Linked DNA regions of Homo sapiens: all the other regions are linked to region 5. The links come from fine-mapping of genetic effects on gene expression. A gene starts in region 5. Each other region holds a variant in brackets. All regions are shown on one strand. Distances are between the middles of the regions. Region 1 overlaps ATF7IP2 (activating transcription factor 7 interacting protein 2). Region 2 has its middle 55 kb from the start of ATF7IP2. Region 3 holds the start of MIR548H2 (microRNA 548h-2). Region 4 overlaps ATF7IP2 (activating transcription factor 7 interacting protein 2). Region 5 holds the start of ATF7IP2 (activating transcription factor 7 interacting protein 2).

What was found. PIP is the estimated chance that this variant, and not a neighbour inherited with it, causes the effect. A credible set is the group of variants that fine-mapping cannot tell apart.
Region 1: its variant is the best candidate, but not a certain one, in a credible set for the expression of ATF7IP2 in whole blood (Lepik 2017, PIP 0.64).
Region 2: its variant is the best candidate, but not a certain one, in a credible set for the expression of ATF7IP2 in whole blood (INTERVAL, PIP 0.68).
Region 3: its variant is the best candidate, but not a certain one, in a credible set for the expression of ATF7IP2 in whole blood (INTERVAL, PIP 0.84).
Region 4: its variant is the best candidate, but not a certain one, in a credible set for the expression of ATF7IP2 in blood mononuclear cells (TOPMed, PIP 0.52).

The regions. Positions count from the first base shown.
Region 1 is chr16:10,430,387-10,435,354 of GRCh38, reverse strand. ATF7IP2 (activating transcription factor 7 interacting protein 2) reads right to left here. Exons shown (of 14, transcript NM_001393719.1): 5 at 3,900-4,744; 6 at 1,706-1,830. The coding sequence starts at 4,734. Among named protein-coding and RNA genes, the nearest start is that of ATF7IP2, 47 kb to the right of the region's middle. The variant T/C (reference allele first, on the strand shown) is at 2,527.
Region 2 is chr16:10,328,288-10,333,255 of GRCh38, reverse strand. No RefSeq gene overlaps it. Among named protein-coding and RNA genes, the nearest start is that of ATF7IP2, 55 kb to the left of the region's middle. RefSeq lists silencers at 1,497-1,697, 3,410-3,704. The variant G/T (reference allele first, on the strand shown) is at 3,062.
Region 3 is chr16:11,301,769-11,306,736 of GRCh38, reverse strand. It overlaps MIR548H2 (microRNA 548h-2), which reads left to right and starts at 210; the gene lies at 210-297. All of the region lies in intron 1 of LOC105371082 (a long non-coding RNA gene), which reads right to left. The variant G/C (reference allele first, on the strand shown) is at 2,127.
Region 4 is chr16:10,470,118-10,475,085 of GRCh38, reverse strand. ATF7IP2 (activating transcription factor 7 interacting protein 2) reads right to left here. Exons shown (of 14, transcript NM_001393719.1): 10 at 2,903-2,976; 11 at 1,552-1,607; 12 at 1,097-1,163. Among named protein-coding and RNA genes, the nearest start is that of LINC01290, 56 kb to the left of the region's middle. The variant T/C (reference allele first, on the strand shown) is at 1,917.
Region 5 is chr16:10,383,382-10,388,349 of GRCh38, reverse strand. It overlaps ATF7IP2 (activating transcription factor 7 interacting protein 2), which reads right to left and starts at 2,289. Exons shown (of 14, transcript NM_001393719.1): 1 at 2,228-2,289. RefSeq lists a silencer at 2,411-2,550.

The sequences.
Region 1 (4,968 bases), 47 kb before region 5:
TGAATAACTTAAGACTGTAAAGGAAAAACCCTTCCTCTTCAGTAATTTAACTGGAATTAACCCGGCCATGCTCCTTATGAAACCTCAAAAGGCTAAGAAATGATCACTGCAGGACTCCTTCAGTAGGGGAGAACAATGTCAGAATGACGGGGAGGGCTATCTCATTGAGATTCAAACAAGGTAAACATCTAGATATGGTTGAGAGAGACAACTGTTTGGACAGCAATAAGAAGTGAGGAAAAGCTAGCTATTTAGAGATGGTTATGTACACATCAGAAGTTACTTCTGGCTGGGCGCGGTGGCTCACACCTGTAATCCCAGCACTTTGGGAGGCCGAGGCGGGCGGATCACTGAAACTGCTGTTCAAGACCAGCCTGGCCAACATGGTAAAATCTGTCTCTACTAAAAATACACACAAAAAGTTAGCTGGGTGTGCTAGTGCACACCTGTAGTCCCAACTACTCAGGAGGTGGAGGTAGCACTGAGCCGAGACTGTGCCACTGCACTCCAGTCTGGGTGACAAAGTGAGACTCTGCCTCAAACAAACAAACAAACAAAAACTTACTTCTCACTTCAGCTACTAATTACTGGAAACAAGACACAGCTGGAATCCCCAACCTTCTTCTTGAATAACATGGTCCTTAGGGCTAGGATCCATGCTTACCATACTTCTACCCTTTCCCTGCCAACAACAGAACACTTACATATTTTTTACTGTCTCCTTTGGTCTTCTTCGAAGAAAACCAAAAGGGAGACACAGAAAAACTGTTGACTCGCCCTTTAAGCTGGTTCTGCGTAACTCTTTCCCTTTATTTTCCCTTATTATTAGGTGAAGAATACACATTCATAGTATATGTAACTATGTAATTGTAATGGTCTGTTTTAAAAAATGGTAGTGTTTCTGTTTCTGAAACAGTTTGCAGGGTAGTTTAGACGGGGAAATTTCGGTCCATTACAGCTGGAAGACATTAGTCTACTAGGTAATGATTTGTAGTGGTGGCATTCTAGTGGTAGTGAAATAGGAAAACATGGTCATCAAAACCCGTCCTCAGTATAACCATTCTACTAGAACTGAAACACGCTACATACACTTCAGCTAACAATTGATCAAACGCATACTGAGACTGTAGTACAATGAGATAAAATGAGGCCACAATGAAAGCAAGAAGTGTATTTAATGATGCTATACAGCAAAATGTCAGATAATGTACCATATCCGTTTAAGTTTGGAAAATAGGGCAAGTAAACCTGAATGCACAGGGACTTTGCAATGGACTTCCAGGTTGTTTGAGTCTTCTGGGTTGTGGTGAGATCTACAAATGGATAGAGCTGCAGATCTAAGAACCCCATGACTAGTACAAAAGAGACTGGATTCTTTAATAAAGCTGAAGGTCATGCAGTGTCTGACTTACAGACAAATATGAGTGTAATACTGACTGAAAGCCCATTCTCTTTTTGCAACAGGACTCTACCTACACATGATCCCTAGGTTATTCTGCATGAGACCATTTTCAAGAAACCAGAGCTGTTTTGGTAATGTAAGTAGTTATCTCTCCCCAGTCTGTCTGATAATTTGGCTTTCACACACCAGCTCTGCAGCAAGTGAAAGTCGTCTGTATTATGCCACTGTGGGGACCAGATAATTAACTTTTACCATGTTTTACTAATCAAAAGTAAAAGTTCCATTTAAGCCCCAATATTTTACCTGTTCCAGGAATGCTGTTTGCCTTTCCAAACTTACACAAATATTTTCATTAATTTGCTCTGAAGTTTTCATGCGTTTAACATTTTCCTCGTTTTCTGAAAACATCCTCTTCTTTTGATAATGGCCTTGAGGAGATCAAAAGATTAGAAAGAAAGATATTTTAAAGAAAAAAACAGGTTCAGTGTGGTGGCTCATGTCTGTAATCCCAGCACTCTGGGAGGCTAAGGAGGGAGGGTGGCTTAAGGCCAGGAGTTCAAGACCAGCCTGGGCAACATAGTGAAAATTCATCTCCACAAAAAATTTAAAATTAGCTGGGTATGGTGGGGCATGCCCGTAGTCTCAGCTACTCAGGAGGTTGAGGTGAGAGGATTGCTTGAGGCTGGGAGGTTGAGGTGGCAGTGAGCACCTTGACTACTGCACTCTAGCCTGGGCAACACAGTGAGACCCTGTTTCAAGGAGGAAAAAAGAGAAGGAAATAGGAATTCTCTAATTTAGAGACCCTCTGAGCAAATGGAAAAACTAAAATGTGACACTGCAGCATTTTTTAGAACATTCAATTGCATAAATACGTACCCACAAACTAACCTTGAAAAAAAATGAGTTATCTTAGGTAGGGTTCTGGTCTCAGATACTCTGTCCCTTTAATCTTACTTAATAACTCAATACACATATACGAACAAAAACTTAACAAATTATGGCATTTAATTCTCTATTTATAGTGACTTAAGTGGTTCTACGTTATTTTATATAAAGGTACTCTTTTTTCATTTTGAGAAGGAGTCTCACTCTTGTCGCCCAGGCAAGAGTGAAGTGGCACGATC[T/C]TGGCTCAGTGCAACTTCCGCCCCCCAGGTTCAAGCAATTCTCCTGTCTCAGTCTCCCAAGTAGCTGCGATAATAATAATAGGTGCCCACCACCACGCCTGGCTAATTTTTTTTGTATTTTTAGTAGAGACGGGGTTTCGCCATGTTGGCCAGGCTGGTCTTGAACTCCTGACCTCAGGTGATCCACCTGCCTCAACCTTCCAAAGTGCTGGGATTGTATTCGTTAGGCACAGCGCCCGGCTTCTTTTTTTTTCTTTAAGAGACAGGGTCTTGGATCTGTTGCCCAGGCTAGCCTGGATGGCTCAAGCGATCCTCCTGCCTCGGCCTCCCAAAGTGCTGTTAATTACAGGCATGAGCCACCACACCCAGCCTATTATACATATTTGAAATAGATGATACTGTTATTATTTTTAAGGAATTTTAAATTCATCTTGTTAAATGACCATTCTGTAGTCTAGACAAGAACACAAAATTTATAGCATTAAATCAGTTTTTTTCTATTTCATTAACAAAATACCCTACTTCAAATGAAATTCACTTTTGCTATTTTAATGATGTTATAACCCAAGGACTTCATTTATTATTTGGGGTGCTTCTCTTTCTCTACACACACATATACACATGTGTGAATATATTATCTATCATACTTAGCATGTGATTTACAGGTCAATTCTATAGAAAGAAATAGGGTTGGCTGGGCACAGTGGCTCACGCCTGTAATCCCAGCACTTTGGGAGGCCAAGGCGGGTGGATCACGAGGTCAGGAGTTCGAGACCAGCATGACCAACATGGTGAAACCCTGTTTCTACTAAAAATACAAAAAAAAAAAAAAAAAAAATTAGCCGGGCGTAGTGGTGCCCATCTGTAATCCCACCTACTCAGGAGGCTGAGGCAGGCAAATCACTCGAACCCAGGAGGTGGGGGTTGCAGTGAGCCAAGATCGCGCCACTGCACTCCAGCCTGAGCGACAGAGCGAGACTCCGTCTCAAAAAAAAAAAAAAAAAAAAAGAAATAGGGTTACCAACAATTTTTAAAACTCACTCTTTCAACTAGCCTCCTTCTTAATCTAATAAAACTTCAAAATAAGAAGAGATGTATATGAAATGAACCAAATAATTGCTATAAACCACCTTTTGATATTTTGTACTTAAGGAAAAGTGATTGATTCCTTCTTTGCAATAATTACCCTTTTAATATGGTGGATACCTGTCCCCCACCTCACTAAGAATGGTTCAGAAACAAGATACTGTGAAATAATTGTCATCATTTACCTTTTTTCTGTCTATACTGGTTTGTATATTTGAGACTTTAAAATACCCTAAAGAAAAGTGACTATTTTAATTTTTCTAAAAGGTGCATAAGTATATACTTACTGTTGTTATTAGTGTCAAGTGATGACTGCCATGTTGAGTCTGCACTTTCACAATTTGAAATACTGGTTCTACTACACTCATCAGTTTTCAAAATGTCATCAGCACAGTTGTTAGAAGTGACTGAATTCACCAAATTAGGTGTTTTCTCAACAGGCACAAAACCTGAGTCTTCTGAACATAAAATGTTGTCACTTTGCCTTTTATCATGTGATTCTGAATTGGAGTTTGTTTCTAAATGGAAAACCATCTGGTCAGTTTTCTTGTCACCCACGGTACTGGTTACTGTAGACTCTGGCATCTGAACAACACCACTCAATACACTGGGTGGACAGCAACTGGACTTTAGACTACAAGCCCCCTCATGCTCAAAAAGGGATCTTGTTACATTTGTCTGATGCTCAGAATCGTTTTCAGAAGTGTTCAGTGAATCTTTTGCCTCTTCTGTGAAGACTCTGCTGGGGGATTCTGTTGTTCTACTTGGCTTTTGGTACGAACAAACAACTTGTTCCAATTTTGTTTCTGAATGAACAATTTCTTCTACTGGTTTTATGCAATTCTGAGAGAATACTTTACTTTTCTCTGATATTGAATTTTTATTAGAGTCCAATGAGGATGCACCATTTTCAGAAGGGCTACATTTGGTTATTTCAGTCGTCCTAGTTATGACACTAGGACTGAAACTCTGATTACCGCTTGGAACATTACTCCCAATTGCTGTTTTCAGCGCTTCAACATTCCTTGACTTATTCAGCATCTCTACTTGCTTCCGGCAACTTAGGGGCATTGTCTTTTTGGCTTTTAATATCTTCCGTTTACTTCTATCTGGACTTGCCATCTTTCATATCCTGGAATTTAAGACATCATATTTAAATGCATTTCTCTAGTGAATAAAAGTTATTTACTACTGAATTAAAGTTATTTATTTACAATATTAAAATAACATTGACACTGTCTCTCCATATTTAGATAATCACCTTACTGAAAATCATATCCATTTTCATGACACTGAAAACATAAAAATCTTTTCTATTGTTTCTATAAATCTAAACTACATAAATTCAAAATCTGT
Region 2 (4,968 bases), 55 kb after region 5:
TAGTAGAGACGGGGTTTCACCATGTTGGCCAGGATGATCTCGATCTCTTGACCTTGTGATCTGCCCACCTCAGCCTCCCAAAGTGCTGGAATTACAGGCATGAGCCACCCCATCCGGCCCACATTTTATTAGTTTTACATGTACATGGGGATCTTCACAAGAAACAAAAAAATGATTCTTTTTTTTAGATGGAATCTTGCTCTATTGCCCAGGCTGGAGCGTAGTGGCGTGATCTCAGCTCACTGCAACTTCCGCCTCCTAGATTCAAGCAGTTCTCCTGTCTGAGCCTCCTGAGTAGCTGGGATTACAGGCACACACCACTACGTCCAGCTAATTTTTGTGTTTTTAGTACAGAAGGGGTTTCATCATGTTGGCCAGGCTGGTCTTGAAGTCCTGAGCCCAAGTGATGTGCCTGCCTTGGCCTCCCATAGTGCTGGGATTACAGGTGTCAGTCACCGTGCTCGGGCCCAAGAATGTGATTCTTCACGAGCAGGAAGATTGGTTGGGCCCAAGAGTTTGAGACCAGCTAGGCAACATAGCAAGACCCTATCTCTATAAAAAGAAAAGTGAAATAATTATCTGGGCTTGGTGGAGCATGCCTGTAATCACAGCTACTTGAGTGGCTGAGGCAAGAGGATGGTTTGAGCCCAGGAGTTTGAGGCTGTAGTGAGCTATGATCATGCCACTGCACTCCAGCCTGGTGACAGAGCAAGAGCAAGACCTTGCTCTAAAAAAAAAAATTAAAAAGGGCTAACTGACCTCTCTCTTTGTGCATGCAGCAGGCCATAAAAATTCCTCTGGGAGGAGGGCTGTCACATACCAGGGTGAGAAAATAGCCCTTATCACCAGAGACTGGGAATTGGGGACTGTGATGGACCTGAATAAACATACTTAATGAAACAATCTTTATCTTCCACTGTTTGACACCCCCATATATCTCCTAGCAACTCCCCTAGAAAATTTATTGCCCTAGCCAGGTTTTCCTGTCATTTCTTCTCAAATGTAATCTAAATAGTGTACAAATAGTATACAAGCATCTATCTTTAGCCACTTGTTTGAACTTCACGCTATTATGAAGACCCCCATGTACAGGTAAAACTAATAAAATGTATATACTTTTGTTAATCTGCATGGTGTCAATTTGGTGTCTAGATCCAGCCAAAGAGCCCACATAGGAGCTAAAGGGGAGCTGGAGGTGACCACTGGCTCCTTTACAAGGTCCAGCCTTTTGATTTCATAGCACAAAATCATGGGCTTTCTGAGGCCAGGCACAGTGGCTCATGCCTGTAATCCCAGCACTTTGGGAGGCTGAGGAGACCGGTGATCATAAGGTCAGGAGTTTGAGACCAGCCTGACCAACATGGTGAAACCCTGTCTCTATTAAAAATACAAAAATTAGCTGGGCATGGTGGCACGCACCTGTAATCTCAGCTACTCAGGAGGCTGAGGCAGGAGAATCGCTTGAACCCGGGAGGTGGAGGTTGCAGTGAGCCGAGATCACACCACTGCCCTCCAGCCTGGGCGACACAGAGCGAGACTCCGTCTCAAAAAAAAAAAAAAAAATTATGGGCTTTCTGATCCTTGGAACTGTAAACACGCACCTCCAAGGCTGACATAGAAGGAGGAGTACAGGAGGCAATCCAGAGATAAGATTTTCTTTTAAATTTTTATTTTTTTGGAGACAAGTCTCACTCTGTTGCCCAGGCTGTAGTGCAGTCATTCCATCATAGCTTACTGCAGCCTCAGGCTCCTGGGCTCAAGTGCTCCTTCTGCCTCAGCTTCCTGAGTAGCTGGGTTATAGACGCGCACAACAAGCCTAGCTAATTTATTGTTTACTTTTTGTAGAGACGGGGTGTTGCTCTGTTGTCCAGGCTGGTCTTGAACTCCTGGGTTCAAGTGATACTCTCGCCTCAGTCTCCTAAAGTTCTGGGAGTACAGGAGTGAGCCACTGCACCTGACCCAATAAGAGATGCTTCAATTATTCTCTCTTCTACTTTTCTGTAAATTCTGTTCAGATTTTGTCCAGACTATCAGAAAAAAAAGAAAGAAAGAAAGAAAAGAAAGAAAGAAAAAAAAAGGAATCAACAGGTCAGAGGCAAATAAGCATTTATTCAGGAATGGGGGTTGCAACCAGGCCCCAGAGACCACCACCCAAGAGGGACAAGAAAGGCTTATAGGAAATTTTTCAGATGACATAAATTACCAGATTATTTTATTGATGGATTAAGCAAAGAAGTTGTTAGTCATTAGTGGAAGGGTACATTTGGGTCAGTTAGGAAAAAACTACACAGACTGTCCCTAAAGATTAGGACCAGATTCCTTGTATTGTATATTGTCGAGAGCATGGTTGTTTGTGAGAGAACTGTTTTTCACAGTTCTTTGTGGGTCTCAAAGTCCACCACCCAATCTAGGCACAGTGGCTCACACCTAAAATCCTAGTACTTTGGGAGGCTGAGGCAGGCAGATTAGCCCAGGAGTTCAAGACCAGCCTGGGCAACATGGTGAAACTCTGTCTCTACAAAAAATACAAAAATATTAGCTGGGTGTGGTGGTGCACACCTGTCGTTCCAGCTACTCAGGAGTTTGAGACAGGAGGATTGCATAAGCCTGGGAGGTTGAGGCTGCAGTGAGCCACTGAGCCATAGTCGTGCCACTGCACTCCAGCGTGGGAGACAGAGACTCTGTCTCAAAAAAAAAAAAAAAAAAAAAGTTCATCATTAGTTCAGTCTGGGGTCAGTAGCCCAAGATAGAGTCCCCGATGTCAAGCGTAGAACAATGCTCTATTCAAACACTCAAATGACCTGTGACAGAGATTCTCTTCTTCACCAAACTCTACTCAGGTTCTCCTAAACTCTTTGTCCAGTAGGTTTCAACTTTTGGAGTTCCGTGTTGATAAAAAAAAAAAATTTCAGGCCGGGCGTGGTGGCTCACACCTGTAATCCCAGTACTTTGGGAAGTTGAGGCAGGTGGATCACCTGAAGTCAGGAGTTCGAGACCAGCCTGGCCAACATGGTGAAATCCCATCTGTACAGAAAATAAAAAAAATTAGCTGGGCATGGTG[G/T]TGGGTGCCTGTAATCCCAGCTACTTGGGAGGCTGAGGCAGGAGAATTGCTTGAACCCGCAAGACGGAGGTTGCAGTGAGGCGAGATTGCACCAGTGCACTCCAGCCTGGGCGACAGAGCAAAACTCTGTCTCAAAAAAAAAAAAAAGAAAAGAAAAGAAAAGAAAAGAAAAGAAATGGAGAAGTAGAGCACATGCTCAAAGCACCTTCTCCCTGAGGGTATGGTGAAGGGGGGTTTTTAAGGTCTCTTAGAACATGTAGGTGGAGACTGGGGGGTGGTGATTTATGGAAAAAGGTGGGACCTTCCAGGGAGAACTGGAGCATGCACAGTCTCCTTCTTTCTTTTCCACTGGCACTATATATGCCTAGCAAAGCACATTTCTCCCCATCCCAGGTGAATATTTTCATACAGCGAAAAAGCAAGGATTCAGGTCCGGGTAGCAGGATGGTAGTGTTTACTATACAGACTCAGACTTGGGAGCCACAGTTCTTATCCTGTGGCTCGTTTGTGGTTACTGACATCCGGCCTTCATTTCTGTAAGCAAGCACATCTGCAAGCACAGGTTAATGTCACAAGTTCTGGGGCTTTTTTTTTTTTTTTTTTTTTTATTCTTTGAACGGAGTTCCACTCTGTCGCCCAGGTTGGAGTGCAATGGTGCAATCTCGGTTCACTGCAACCTCCACCTCCCAGGTTCAAGCGATTCTCCTGCCTCAGCCTCCCGAGTAGCTGGGATTACAGGCATGCACCACCATGCCTGGCTAATTTTGTATTTTTAGTAGAGATGGGGTTTCTCCATGTTGGTCAGGCTGGTCTCAAACTCCAGGCCTCAGGTTATCTGCCCAGCTTGGCCTCCGAAAGTGCTGGGATTACAGGCGTGAGCCACCATGCCCGGCCTATTTTTATTATTTTCTTTTTGAGATAAGAGTCTTGCAGCCGGGCGCAGTGGCTCATGCCTGTAATCCCAGCACTTTGGGAGGCCGAGGCAGGAGGATCACGAGGTCAGGAGATCGAGATCATCCTGGCTAACGTGGTGAAACCCCGTTTCTACTAAAAAAATTAGCTGGGCGTGGTGGTGGGCACCTGTAGTCCCAGCTACTCGGGAGGCTGAGGCAGGAGAATGGCATGAACCCGGGAGGTGGAGCCGAGATGGGGCCACTGCACTCCAGCTTGGGCAACAGAGTGAGACTCTGTCTCAAAAAAAAAAAAAAAAAAAGAATCTTGCTCTGTCACCCAAGCTGGATTGCAGTGGTGCTATCTCAGCTCCCTGCAATCTCTGCCTCCCAGATTCAAGCGATTCCCCTGCCTCAGCCTCCCGAGTAACCAGGAGTACAGGTGTTTACCACCATGCCCAGCTAATTTTTGTATTTTCAGTAGAGACGGGGTTTCGCCATGTTGGCCAGGCTGGTCTGGAACTCCTGACCTCAGGTGATCTGCCCACCTCAGCCTCCCAAAGTGCTGGGATTACAGGTGTGAGCCACCATGCCAGGCCTATTATCTTTAAACCAAAATTAGGGATGCCTTTGCTCTCCAGATATCGGGATATCTGGACACTCCCAAGTCTGAGTCTGTTCGGTAAACACTATCAATCTGTTCCCTTAACTGTAAACATCTAGAGGCTAGGAATACCTTTCTGGGAATGCAGCCCCGTAAGTCCCAGCCTCATTTTCCTAGCCCTCACTCAAGATGGAGGCATGCTGGTTTTAAGGCCTCTGACAAAAGCAGTGGTTAGAATCTGGGCTCTAGGCCAGGTTGAAGCTGCAGTGAGTCATGATTGCACCACTGCACTCTACCCTGGGTGACAGAATGAGACCCTGTCTCAAAAAAATAATAATAGGCCGGGCATGGTGGCTCATGCCTGTAATCCTAGCACTTTGGGAGGCCGAGGAGGGTGGATCACCTGAGGTCAG
Region 3 (4,968 bases), 920 kb before region 5:
GGATTCTTGTTGGATCTTTAATGGCGAAAGGTGTGAACCCGTTCTCATGGGATTGTTTTATAAGGGTGCTAATCCCATTCATGAGGGCTGTGCCCTCATGAACTAATCACCTTCCAAAGGCCCCGCCTCCTAATGCACCATCACAGTGGGGGTGAGAATTTCATCATATGCATTGCCGGAGGGCCCAAGCGTTCAGACCATAGCAATGTGTATTAGGTTGGTGCAAAAGTAATCGCGGTTTTTGTCATTACTTTCAATGGCAAACACCACAATTACTTTTGCACCAACCTAATATAAACCACATCATGTTCATCCATTCACCCATTAATGGGCATCTGGGTTGCTTCCACATTTTGGCTATTGTGAATAGTGCTGCTATGAACATGGGTGTACAAAAGGTTTTGTTGTTGTTGTTGTTGTTTTTTGAGATAGTCTCACTCTGTCACCCAGGCTGGAGTGTAGTGGCGTGATCTCAGCTCACTGCAGCCTCCACCTCCTGGGTTCAAACGATTCTCCTGCTTCAGCCTCCTGGGTAGCTGGGAAAACAGGCATGTGCCAACATGCCCAGCTAATTTTTGTATTTTTAGTAAAGACAGCATTTGCCATGTTGACCAGGCTGGTTTTGAACTCCTGACCTCAAGTGATCTGCCCGCCTCGGCCTCCCGAATCTCTGGGATTACAGGTGTGAGCCACTGCGCCTGGCCAGATTTTTTTGCTTTTTATAGAGATGGGGTTTTGCTATGCTGCCCAGGCTTAATCTAATTTTGTCTCCACGAATTTGCCTATTCTGGACATTTCCCATAGATGGAACCATATAATAAGTGGTCTTCTGTGCCTGCCTTCTTCCACACACCGTGTTTTCCACGTTCACTCATGGTGTAGTTTGAATGTAGTATCGTGGTTTAAAATCAGTTCTCAGAACCTCATTCCTTTTTTGTTGTTGTTGAATAATATTCCATCGCATGCCTCGGGAACTTTTTATTTTTATTTGTAATTTTTTTGAGACGGAGTCTCGCTGTGTCGCCCAGGTTAGAGTGCAGTGGTGCCATCTCAGCACACTGTAAGCTCCGCCTCCTGGGTTCATGCCATTGTCCTGCCTCAGCCTCCCAAGTAGCTGGGATTACAGGCATCCGCCACCACACCTGGCTAATTTTTTGCATTTTTAGTAGAGACAGGGTTGCACTGTGTTAGCCAGGATGGTCTCGACCTCCTGACCTTGTGATCCGCCCGCCTCGGCCTCCCAAAGTGCTGGGATTACAGGTGTGAGCCACCACGCCCAGCCAGGCCCGGGAGCTTTTAAAACATACCGATGCTGGTGCCCCAACTGAGACACACTGATCCAAGTAGCCTGAGGTGGGGCACCACGATCTGTAGAAACCTCCAGGTGGTTCCATCTGCTTCCAGTGCTGAGACTCATGCTGCTTTCTCTGCTTGGGGATTCCAGGGTAGATATTACAGGCAACATTTCAGCCCGGGGTTCCGCAGCTGAAGTGGAATCTGACTTCCTTCCTCCATTTGGCAGCACGAATGAGATGCTGACTGCATGCGTGGCACTGTGAGACCCAAATGACCATGACGGAGACTTTCCCTCATATGGTTTGGTGTCCTTAACTACTGGCACAGGAGGCCTGGTGTATGTTTAATAACAAGTAGAATGAAACAAGAATGGAAGGAGAGGACGACTGCAGGGGTAGGCAGTATTACTTAAGTAAAGCGAAGGTTCTGTCTTTGGGGAATGCTGACCCCTAAAATGGACACAGTGAGAAAAATGCTTCCACAGGGACCATATTTTGCCTACAACTTTAGGAGATTCTCTACCATGAAATCTACCCATGACCCGTAAGTTGAATCCCTTGTTTCAGAGAGAGAGAATGATGTAATTCACACATTGAACACTATTATTATTATTATTGTTATTATTTTGAGACAAGGTCTGTCTCTGCCACCCAGGCTGGAGTGCAGTGGAGCAATCTTGGCTCACTGCAAGCTCCGCCTCCCGGATTCATGCCATTCTCCTGCCTCAGCCTCCCTAGTAGCTGGGACTACGGGCGCCCGCCACCACGCCCGGCTAATTTTTTGTATTTTTAGTAGAGACAGGGTTTCACCGTGTTAGCCAGGATGGTTTC[G/C]ATCTCCTGACCTCGTGATCCGACCGCCTCGGCCTCCCAAAGTGCTGGGATTACAGGTGTGAGCCACCGCGCCTGGCCTCTGAACACATTATTTTCTAAGCACTTACGACTTGCTAGGTGCTGGGACTGAAGCCATGAACAAAACAACGTCCTTGTTCTTAAGGATATTGTGATTTGGTGGAGAGAAGCAGCTAGCACACAGAGAGGCAAGACAGAGCACCCGATTGTCCAGTGGTATGGGCGGATAATGTAAGGAGGCACCCAAAATGTGTCCCTTCCAGGCACAGCAGCCCCAGGACACTTTGCTGAGATCTGGAAGCTAGGAAGGCATCAGCCATGCCCTAATGCAGAAAAGCATTCCAGGCAGAGGGAACGGCAACGTGATTTCAATTCCGGCAACTGAAACATAACGCATGTGGAGGGGTGGGGGAGATGGAGTCAGAAAGGTGGGTCGGGGCAGGGTGAGAAATCTCAAGACTATTGGAAATGGTTTTGTGGAGTGGGGGCGGGTGGGGGCTCCTTTTCCAGCACAAGGACCCAGCAATGTAAACAGGACAGACTTGACCCAGTTCTTTTGGAGCTGGGAATGTTAGCACTAGGGAACATATCTGAGTCACAGGGCACCAGTGTGTGTTAGCGGCAGTGAGTCCATACGAGTCTGCAGCAACCTCAATTCTTGCCTCCTCCGAAGAAAGAATTCGACGCAGGGGGCATAAGGCAAAGAGAGGCAAGCTCTAGAGCAGGAGTGAACATTTGTTAAAAAGTTTTAGGGCAGGAATGAAAGGAAGTCAAGTTCACTTGGAAGAGTGCCAGGCGGGCGACTTGAACGAGTCAACTGCCCACTTTGCCATTTGACTTGAGGTCTTATATGCTGGCACGCTTCCAGGGTTGCACTACTTCTCCCGATCCTTCCCTTGGGGTGGGCCGTCCCCTTAGCCGTGGCCTGCCTGTCCTTGGGAGGGGAGCATGCGCAGTGTGTTTACTGAAGTTGTGCGCATGCTCACTTGAGGCGTTTTTCCCTTACCAGTCCAGCGTTCCTAGAAGCAGGTCACAGACCAGACTCTGCCATTCTGCCTCTTAGTATGCATGCTTGAGCCAACTCTGAGATCTTATCGCAAAGCTGCTGATCATATTTCTGGTGTTTTTTAATCTATTGGGAGCCTGCCTTTCCTCAGTGCTGGCTACAACCAATTATTATTTTGGAGAGACAGTTAAATCACCTGACCATCACCTGATGGTGGCCTGACAGTCCTGGTTGGGGGGCACCCTCTCCTGCCCTGCTTATGTCTGACTGCCTACTGTAACAAGGGCAGACAGAGGGCAAACTTATTTTACAAAATGCGTCTCAACAGGTGAAAGGCGGAGGGTGGAGGCATCTTGGGCCAAGAGAGGCAGGAGGAAAGGCCCCAGGCTGGAAAAATCAGGGGCCCCCTTTGCAGATAAAGTGTCCACAAGTGGGGCTTGTACAGACCTGAAGCAGCTGCAGGAACACTGGCCATCTGCCAAACAGAAAACGAGACTAAAGGTGTTTCAACAAAGTCAAGAGAGATGGAGGAGACCTGCTAGTGTTTGGGAAAACATTGAAACTGGGCAAAACCAGCGCATCCAAACATTTTCTCTGAGATTGAAAACTTTATAGATATAAGAAAAGTATGTATGTGTGTGTGTATATATATATATAATATACACATACATATATACATACATATGTACTTGTCATATGCCAGGTGCTGGGCCATATGCCAATATATTACTATTTAATTTTTGTTTTATTTTTTGTAGAGATGGGGTCTTGCTATGTTGCCCAGGCAGGTCTCGAACTTCTGGCCTCAAATGATCCTCCTGCCTCAGCCTCCCAAGTAGCTGGGATTACAGGCTTGTGCCACCACCTCTGGCTAATTTTTAAACTTTTTTGTACAGGTGGGGTCTCACTATGTTGCCCAGGCTGGTCTCAAATTCCTGGGCCCAAGTGATCCTCCTGCCTTGGCCTCCTAAAGCACTGGGATTACAGGTGTGAGCCACCATACCCAGCCTAAGATATTACTTTTATTCACATCCTTATTGTTGCTTTTGACAGCTTCCTGGGATTCCTTTTGGCACTCATCTGTGTCCCATGTGTACTGGCCCCAAAAAGATAAGTTCACATCTTAACCCCTTTCAAAGCCTTATGAAGGTGACTTTGTTTGGAAATAGGATCTTTGCAAACATGATTAAGTGAAGGATCTAGAGATGAGATCATTCTGGATTAGGGTGGGCCCTGAATCCAACAACAAGTGTACTTAGAAGGGTAGAAGACAATGGAAAGGAGGCCTTGTGAAGAGGGAGGCATAGACTGGAGTGACTAATGCATCTCCACACCCAGGAGCATTGGGGGTCGCCAGCAGCTCCCAGAAGCTAGGGAGAGGCATGGAACAGATTCTCCCCTAGAGCCTCTGGGAGGAACCAGCCCTGCCTGCCAACACCTTGACTTTGAACTTCTGGCCTCCAGAACCATGAGAGAATACATTTCTATTGTTTTAAGCCACCCAGTCTGTGGGAATTTGTTACCACAACGTTGGGAAATGAATATAATGTATATAATTAATAAGTTCACATCCACCACTGAGGGTCTTGCTGATATTTTATATGACATTGTGGGGAAGAAGATCAGACACTTCAGGGGATCTCTGGCTGATCTTGATTCTATCACTTACTGCATAACTCTGGGCACGTTCTGTGGCTTCCCTGGGCTTCTGTCTACTGGGGAGAGCAGTGGTTTACGTGAAATATGTGAAATACTCCACCACTGCTAGCAGCTGTGATTTCCATGGTCATGGCTACAGTCTCACAGTCAGTCAAATGG
Region 4 (4,968 bases), 87 kb before region 5:
AGGTCTGCTGGCAACAAATTTTGTTGATCTGAAAAATTTTAATTTTGCTTTATTTATTCTTATTTTTGTAGAGATGGGGTTTCCCTATGTTGCCTAGGCTGGTCTCAAACTGCTGGCCTCAAGCCATCCTCCTGCCCTGACCTCCCAAAGTTGCTTTCTTTTTTGAAAGCCATATTTTCTAGATAAAGAATTACAGGTTGACAGTTATTTTCCCCCAACCTTTTAATGAAGTCATTCAATTGTCTTTTGGCTTGCATTGTTCTAGCCTAGAAACCTGTGAATTCTTTGTTCTTTCACCTGCATTGTATCTTCATTTTTCTCCTTATCACTGGATTTCAGGAACTTGACTATGTTATGTCTTGGTATGAATTCTTTTGTGTTTATCCTGGAGTTTTTTAAACACCTTGGGTATGTGGGTTTATACTTTTCATTAAATTCCAATGAGACCTTATAACTGATCCCCAGCCCCACGACTGTATTTCACTTCTTTTTCCTTAAATCTGTGAAAGACGACAGACACTGTTGTCACTCTCTGTCTACATTTTCATGTTATACCCCAGTTTCTGTTTCTCTGTGCGTCCTCTTAGCTGCTATTGTTGTGGTTAGGGAAAAAAGTATGTACCACAGGAAGAAAATAAATGTGTAAAAGTCCCCAACAAGCCAGATGTCTTTCAATGGGTTTATGAATAAAGAAATTATGATGCATCCACACCACGGGCTACTCTTGGCAATAAAGAGGAACACACTACTGTTACACAAGAATGTGGATGACCCTCGGAAGAAGTCAATCTCCGAAGGACACATACTGCATTATCAAATTTATGTAAATTTGTGAAATAACAATTATAGTACAGAACAGATTGGTGGCTGCCAGGGATTGGGGCAGAAACAAGGTGTGAGTATAAAGGGGTAGCATGAAGGAGCTTTGTCACTGTGACGGCAGTTACATGAATCTGCACATGAGCTAAAACTGCACAGAGATATAAACATAGGCACACTCACATATTAAAACAAACTTCATAAGTAGACCCAGTGCATTATGAGTTGTTACCCTTCCCTCCTTTTTACAAAAGAAAGATCTAAAAAATCCTTTTACCTGTATTGCAGTTGGATAGGCCTTCTTTTGTCAAATCAATTATAGAATCAAGTTTCTTCTGTACAGCCTAAAAAAATTGTAAAAAAAAAAAAAAAGCTTTGCCTCAATAGCTGAAAATGTTTTTAAAAATTTAAAACCATTTGGTAATTTTAAATGGTAATTTTAAATCACCATTCGGAAACTAGAGATGGAACATTCTCTAAGTCTCTTGTGGTTTAACTCTACTATTAAAAAGCTCTTATAAAATACTAAATGGTTTCTGAGAATATGACTAAGGAGAATGTAAATGAATTTGGTAAATGAGTATCGTTATGAATTATGCTTATCATTAGCTGTCTGCTTTTCAGTGTGTAACGTGGACTAAAACTAAATCATCCAACATGTAGCAAACACTAAAGTTCCTTGAACTAACATATTTAAATAAACAATATTCAGAGTCAATATTTATTACTCACCATAACTTCAGCATTGGGAGAATTGCTAGAATTTCCTGATGTAATTTTTCTGGTATCTGAAAGAAATTAGACATTTGACAAATTTATTACACAATATTTATGGGCTTTGTGAAATATGAATGCTAAAACAAAATAATAGGGATGCTAATTAGCTGTTAATTATACAGTGATAAAAAGTAACTCAATTGACTTTACCTATTCCAAAGACTGAATGAAATTTTTTTAAAAAAATGTAATTTTGGGTCAAACCATTTTGTCTTTCTGTAACTTTGCAACTATATTAGTAACTCTTTTTTTGAAAATCTACCTAGAAATTTCCATGAGAAAATACACCTGGAAATGCACACACTTTTAATTCACAGTAT[T/C]TTTAGACTACAACTGCCTGACATGGCTGAGAAGCACTCTTCCTGGAACCAGTAGGAAGCCTAAGATAAATGATTAACATCCTTTGTAATTCTCTGATTCACAATCTTAGCCCAAATTGTGGGGACAATTAAGTAGCTATTAAGTGGAGGCAAAGCTTTAAAATTAAGATGCAAATACTTTAACATAGTAGAAAATGAAATGAAAATGGGGAATTTTGAATAAGAAATTATGAGCCAAACAAGATGGGTATTTTTGAGAGAGAGAAAAGTTATCATTGGAAATGTAAGGTTAAAATTTTTTTTTTTTTTTTTTTGAGACGGAGTCTTGCTGTTTTGCCCAGGCTGGAGTGCAGTAGCACGATCTCAGCTCACTGCAGTCTCTGCCTCCAAGGTTCAAGCAATTCTCCTGCCTCACCCTCCAGAGTAGCTGGGATTACAGGCACCTGCCACCATGCCTGGCTAATTTTTGTATTTTTAATACAGATGGGGTTTCATTTTGTTGGCCAGGCTGGTCTTGAACTCCTGACCTCAGGTGATCTGCCTGCCTCAGCCTCCCAAAGTGCTTGGATTACAGGTGTGAGCCACCACACCCAGACTGACTAGACAAATTTTAAATCTTAAGTAGACTATAAGATAACTTAATAGATAAAAAATAAGAAGACAAAAAACAAACCGTCACTACCATCAAAAAAAGGCCAGGGCAAACCATTAAAAATAAGTAGTTTTTACAAGTTATAAAGTCATTAAACACATAAAAGAAACAAAAGGCCCTAAACTGATAAAACACAAGGTTAAAATGAAATCTCAATTACATTAAGGAATCATTTATTTAGGTAATATTAACCATGATATAAATTAGAACATTTGAGAGTACATTTAACTTTTTCATTTTATTAAAAGATATTATTCAATTTTTCACTTTAAAGCAAACATTGATTTAAGGCCTTCTAACTTGATAGATCATATTCTAATCAGCTATAAGATACCTGTTGGATTTGATGTAATTGGAGTTGTCAAATTAGGACTTTCCACAGAAATCAACATAACATCATCATTGTTACTAAAATGATAAAAAGAAATTAAAAACAAAAACTAAACATGCATTATCAGGCTTAAACATGCAATTAGTGGTTAGGAGTCCTCTAACTTAACATTTCATAATGTTTTAATTGAACAATCGTGGGGGGAAATAGAAATGATAAAACCAAATACCCAAAAAAACTCCATTTATTACCAGTTCCGTTATATGACTAAAGATTCATCAAAATCCAATAATTAGATCCCTACTACATTTTATGGGTCTTTCACAATGACTCAAAATATATATAAGTATACAATGGACATAAATGTATAAAACATACAAATTCCTTTGAGCGTATATACTTACTTCTATAAAAATGAAACATCATGTAATGAAGGAAATCTATTAAGACCCATAAAGACACCTGGACTCCTAAAGGTAGAAAACTATAACAAAGAAAATTATTTTAAAAAGAACTGCTACTACTCTTCATTTTATCTCTCCAGTAGCAATATTTACCACAAATTTGAGACAATGATGATAAATGATGCTGATTACGGTTATAGAATATTTCAAGCCATTTTGACCCTTTTTTTTTATGAGCGACTTTTTTGTTTTTTGAGATGGAGTTTTGCTCTTGTCCCCCAGGCTGAAGTGCAGTGGCGCAATCTTGGCTCACCGAAACCTCTGTCTCCCAGGTTCAAGCGATTCTCCTGCCTCAGCCTCTTCAGTAGCTGGGATTACAAGCATATGCCACCATGCCCGGCTAATTTTTCTATTTTTAGTAGAGACAGGGTTTCACCATGTTGGTCAGGCTGGTCTTGAACTCCTGACCTCAGGTGATCCGCCCACCTTGGCCTCCCAAAGTGCTGGGATTACAGGTGTGAGCCACTGCGCCCAGTCCAATTATACCATTTTCTTGCAGACATCTTCTGTTTTTACTGTTTGTACTTAGGTGTATGATCCATTTTGAGTTAATTTTTGTTTATGGTATGAAGTAAGAGCTGAGGTTCACTTTTCCCTCTATTCCAGCAACATTTTTGAAAAGAACATCTTTTCCTGTTAAACTACATCGGTACCTTTGTTGTAAACCAATGAACTACATGTGCAGTCTCTAGTGTGTCCACTGGTCAACATACCTATCCCTATGCCAACACCACTGTCTTAATACTACACCTTTATAGTTAAGTCTTGAACAAAGATAGTGTAGTCTTCTAACTTTCTTTCCCAACATTGTTTTCATCTTCTGGGTCTCTGCATTTTCATATATATATTCACACACACACACACACACATATATATACACACACATATATATATATATACACACACACATATATATATATACATATATATATATTTTTAAGAGACAGACTCGTGCTCTGTCTCCCAGGCTGGAGTGTAGTGGTGCAAATGTATCTTGCTGAAGCCTGAACCTCTGGGCTCAAAAGATCCTCTCATCTCGGCCTCCTAAGTAGCTGGGATGACAGCATGTGTCACCAGGCCTGGCTAACTTTTTAAAAAAATTTTTTTAAAAATGTTTTTTTATGTTGGCCAGGCTGGTCTTGAACTCCTGACCTCAAGTGATCCTCCTGCCCTGGCCTCCCAAGATGCTGGGATTATAAGTGTAAGCCATCATGCCTGGCCTTAAGTTTTTAATCAGTTTGTTACTTACTACAAAAACGGCTGAGGCATTGATAGATATACAATTTGGGGTGAAGTAACATCTTAATGAATTCATGAAAGTTACATATCTCACCACTTATTTAGGTCTCCTTTAATTTCTTCAGTAATACTTTGTAGTTTTAGGTTAGGTGGTTTTGGTTTATCCCTAAATATATTATGTTCTCTGAAGTCATTGTAAATGGCATCCATTTTAAATTTCAAATTCCAATTGTTTCTTGCTTGTGTGTGTGTATATATATAATTTCTAAACTATATATTCTACATATATATAGGATGTAGTGTTTCTATATAGAGTGTGTTGTGTGTATACACTATAAAGAAACAAAAATATTTTCTATTTGCCAA
Region 5 (4,968 bases):
AATATATTATCTCCCTTTCCTCCAAAAAGTCATGGTTATTTCTCTCTAGACACTGGCTGACTCCAATCTGTCCCATCGTTGGTAAAAATGAAGATGAAAAACTATCCTAGTCTACTGTAAAGCAGAATAATTATCTAAATGATATAAAAATATGAGATAGGCCGGGCGCTAAGACTAGCGCCTGTCATCCTAGCACTTTGGGAGGCAGAGGCGGGCTGATCACCTGAGGTCAGGAATTCGAGACCAGCCTGGCCAACACGGTGAAACCCCATCTCTACTAAAAATACAAAAACTAGTCGGGCGCCTATAATCCCAGCTACTTGCAAGGCTGAGGCAGGAGAATCACTTGAACCCGGAGGGAGGAGGTTGCAGTGAGCCGAGATCGCGCCACTTCACTCCAGCCTGAGCCAAAGAGCGAATCTCTGCCTCACAAAGAAAAATAAATAAGTAAAATAAAATAAAATAAACGAGATAGATAAGTCACCGCAGTGTGTGTGTGTCCGGGTGGCGGGGGGAGGGGGGGGGAGTAAAATAGACTGACATAGAATGAGAGAATAAGATTTTTTGGTATTTTGTATCATCTCGCTCAACAATGAGAACTAATACTCTTGCGCATTTAAAGTTGTATTTTATTTTTAACTATCCAATATATTAAACTTTGATTACATCAAATGAAATAGATTGTGCACACTCACTATAAGAGAGCTATGATATATGCAGAAGCAAAGGTGCAGGGATCATGCAATAGTTTCGTACCAGATTTCAAGATACCAAGTAGCAAGGAAACACAATGGAATTGAAGGCTGAGGTGAAGTACAGGCATAAGGCAAGGAAAGCAGAACATTCAAGATGTACCTATATACACCAGTTCTTAAAACACGCAAATCATTTCCAATAAGGCACTGGCTCATGTATTTCTGTTGAGGCAGAAGTCAATCTTAGGATGTGGTCTGTACATATCTGCAGATAAGACTGAGAGTGAAGTAAATTTGATTAAGATCGGAGTCAACACTTCTACAAACGTATTGCAGAATAAACGAGCTAAGAAGAAAGGCATACTTCACAAAAGCTGAATTCAGTGTTATTAGTCCTTCATTCAGATGCTTCATTTTTGCATTTTCAATTGCTTTCCTGTGATATAACTTATCTTTATCTTGGTCTTCCCCATTTGTTTTGCAAATAGTTATGTCGCAGGTCATTTACTGGCTACAATAAATATGACAAAATCATAATAAAAACAGTATTAAGTCGCAATCTAGAATAACAATTTAAGTGAATATGACATAATTTTTCTAATGTGGACTATTCAGTACAACTGTCCTCTTCTTCCATACATATTAACCATATGCAAGTCTTCAGAACAGAAAAAGCCATTGTGTCGTAAAGGAAGGAACACGTGGTTAGAAACTTCATTTTCAACACAGAAACACGGAAAGGTAGAAAGTCCGTTTCCTTAAGTGCGGTAAGGTTTTAACAAAAATAAGGCAAAAAAAATTATTGCGTCCTCTCTTTCTCAAACTTGCTTGCCAAACTTGGAGAAAACTGGTTAGAGAAGGGCGATAAGATGGAATTTTCTTAAAAACATATTCATAAAAACGAACTTCTACCTTAAGGAAATCGTCTTCCTTAAATCCTACCATCCTTACACCGGCAAGCTCAGAGGTACGGGATTTCAGCATTTTACTCAGAATTTTGTATTTTTCCTGATGCTCTGGTCCCTACTTTTTAACAAACTTCAAGGCCGCCAGGCGAGATCCAGTTGCCTTCTGGCACCTGACTTCATTAGATGATTAAAACAACTCAAGAAAATTTGGCAATGGGACACTAAAATTGGTGGAGGTGGAGATTTATCCGTTAATTTCTGAAAGCATTCCGGACAAGAGCGAGCTTTTACTTACCCCTCAGGACAAAAAACACGCACCACTTCCCTCCGCAGTCCCTAACCCCAGTGCCGCCCGGACCTGAGGCCGCACACCACTCCCGCTTCACCAGTATCCCTCTGCGAAAACGGTGGAGACGCGCCCGTCCGCCCCTCAGGGGCCTCTTCCCGGACCTGTCAGACGGCCCCGCGGACGCTTTTCAGTCAGGGCAGCTTCGCCGCAAACGTCCGGTAGGCCCGGCGCTCCGAGGCCTCCGGGGCCGGCCCTCAGAGAGGCGACCGACGCTCCTAGAGCCGCCACCCCGCCAATCGCCGCTCTCGCAGGACACTCGCCCGGCCCCAACGTACCTAGAGCGACGACGCACCAGCCGCAGCAATACCCACAGCCACTTCGAACCGCAGCCGTTAACAATGCTGGTCCGGCCAGGACCTGCTGAAGTAGGTCTCCCTACGCCCACCCCCAGCTGATTATGGACCAATGGCAGCGCGAATATGCGGCAGCCCAGCCAGTCAGGCACAGCCAGCTAGAGTGGGCGGGGCGAAGGGTCGCGAGGGGAAATGGAAGTAGGCTGAGGGGCGCCTGGGGTTCGCCTCCGTGGGCGCTTCTTCCGGTCAGCCACCGGGGCTTACCCGCCATAGCGCAGATGCAGGCTCCTGAGCTGGGCCTTTCTTTTGAGTGACTCGTGTGAAGATTTAGACTTTCGAAACTTATTAGGAATAAGACCTTATTTACAAAAACAACTCCTCACCCGGTCGGTAGTTTCCGATTTGAATTTTCTAATATTGTTTGAAAATATTTATCTTATTTACTTTTTTGGACGACTCCTTAAATTTTGTGACTCAGGAGATTGGTCCTAGCACCGTAGTCTTTTTTTTTTTTTTTTTTTTTTGAGACGGAGTTTCGCTCTTGTCGCCCAGGCTGGAGTTCAGTGGCGTGATCTCAGCTCACTGTACCCCCATTTCCCACCTCCCAGGTTCAAGCGATTCTCCTGCCTTAGCCTCCCGAGTAGCTGGGACCACAGGTGTGCACCACCATGCCCGGCTAATTTTTGTACTTTTAATAGACATGGGGTTTCACTATGTTGGCCAGGCTGGTCTTGAACTCCTGGACCTCAGGTGATCCGCCACCTCTGCCTCCCCATATGTTGGGATTACAGGCATGAGCCACTGCACCCACCCGCACCATAGCCTTGAGTTTGCTAAATTGTCCCAGGAACCTGCCAGCCTTGGCTGCTTGTGATTTCATGAGGCCCGATGCCTTAGGTGGCTGTGCACTTGGATGCCATGAACTCACTCAACAGGTGGTCACTGAATGCCCACTGTGTAGAAAATACAGGAAATACAACAGTAGATTAGATCCATAATGCCCTCTTTTTCATTAATTAATTTATTTATTTATTTGACAGAGTTTTGCTCTTGTTGCCTAGGCTGGAGTGCAATGGCGCGATCTCGGCTCACCACAACCTCCGCCTCCCGGGTTCAAGCGCTTCTCCTACCTCTGCCCCCAACAAGTAGCTGGGATTATAGGCATGCGCCACAGTGCCTGGCTAAGTTTTTTTTTTATTTTTAGTAGAGACGGGGTTTCTCAATGTTGATCAGGCTGGTCATGAACTCCCGACCTCAGGTAATCCACCTGCTTCGGCCTCCCAAAGTGCTGGGATTACAGGCGTGAGCCACCACGCTTGTCATGAGGCTAGAGCTGCCTGCCTTGTCACTTCCAGTTAGGAGAAAAATGAGGCAAGTCCGGACAATCTAGGTTGGGTCATCAATGGAATAACATACTCCAACCAGCCAGTTCCCCAAATATGCTCCAGGGATCTAGGGGTAATCTTTAATGTCAATCCTATTTTTATAATTATACTATTTTTATAATAATATAAAGATGATTTTGCTTTTTTCATTCTCTGAGTCAGGAGAGTACATGGAATTTTCTAGAAGCCTCTGGAAAATCGACGGGTGATATTGCTACAGATTGAATACAGAAGCAGACATGAGAATCTAACTACCAACCTGGGCAACAAAGTGAGATACCCACTTTTCTAGAAAAGTAAAAATAAAAAGTTAGCTGCATCCTTCCACCTACACGGGAGGCTGAGAGGACGGGAGGATCGCTTAAGCTTAGGAGTTAGGGACTGCAGTGAGCTGTGATAGTGTCACTGCACTCCACCCTGGGTGATAGAGCAAGAGACTGTCTTAGAAAAGAGAGAGAGAGAGGCCAAGCGCAGTGGCTCACATCTGTAATCCCAGCACTTTGGGAGGCTGAGGCAGCCGGATCATGAGGTCAATAGTTCGAGACCAGCCTGGCCAACATAGTGAAACCCCATCTCTACTAAAAATACAAAAATTAGCCGGGCATGGTGGCGCGTGCCTGTAATCCCAGCTACTCGGGAGGCTGAAGCAGGAGAATCGACTGAACCCGAGAGGTGGAGTTTGTGGTAAGCCAAGATCGCACTACTGCACCCCAGCATGGGCAACAGAGTGAGACTCCGTCTCAAAAACCAAAAAAAAAAAAAAAAGAGAGAGAGAGTCTTACTGTATTAAGTCAGACGTTAAGGAAATTAGCAAAAATGTAAAACAATCCTAATCTTTGCACATTTTTTGTTGTTCTAGAACATGATTTTGAAAATAATTATAGGGTTGCTAAGAGAGATAGTGTGGGAGGGAGTGGGAGGTAGTAAGTTGCAGTCAGATAAGGAATTTGGACTTAATTCAGTTAACAGTGAGTAACTAGCCTTTAGAAATGTTATGTCTATTTAAGGTACTAGGATATCTTGTATGTCATTTTAACAATAGTAATATAATAGGCCAGGTGGACACCTGTAATCCTAGCATTTTAGGATGCCAAGACCGACAGATAGCTTGAGCCCAGGAGTTTGAGACCAGCCTGGGCAATATAGCGAGACCCCATCTCTATAAAAAAATTATAATAATTGATATTTACTGGACATTATGTTAATAAAGTTTATTGTTGGCTGGGTGCGGTGGCTCATGCCTGTAATCCCAGCACTTTGGGAGGCCAAGGTGGGCAGATCACTTGAGATCAAGACCATCCTGGCCAACATGGTGAAACCCTGTCTCTACTAAAAATA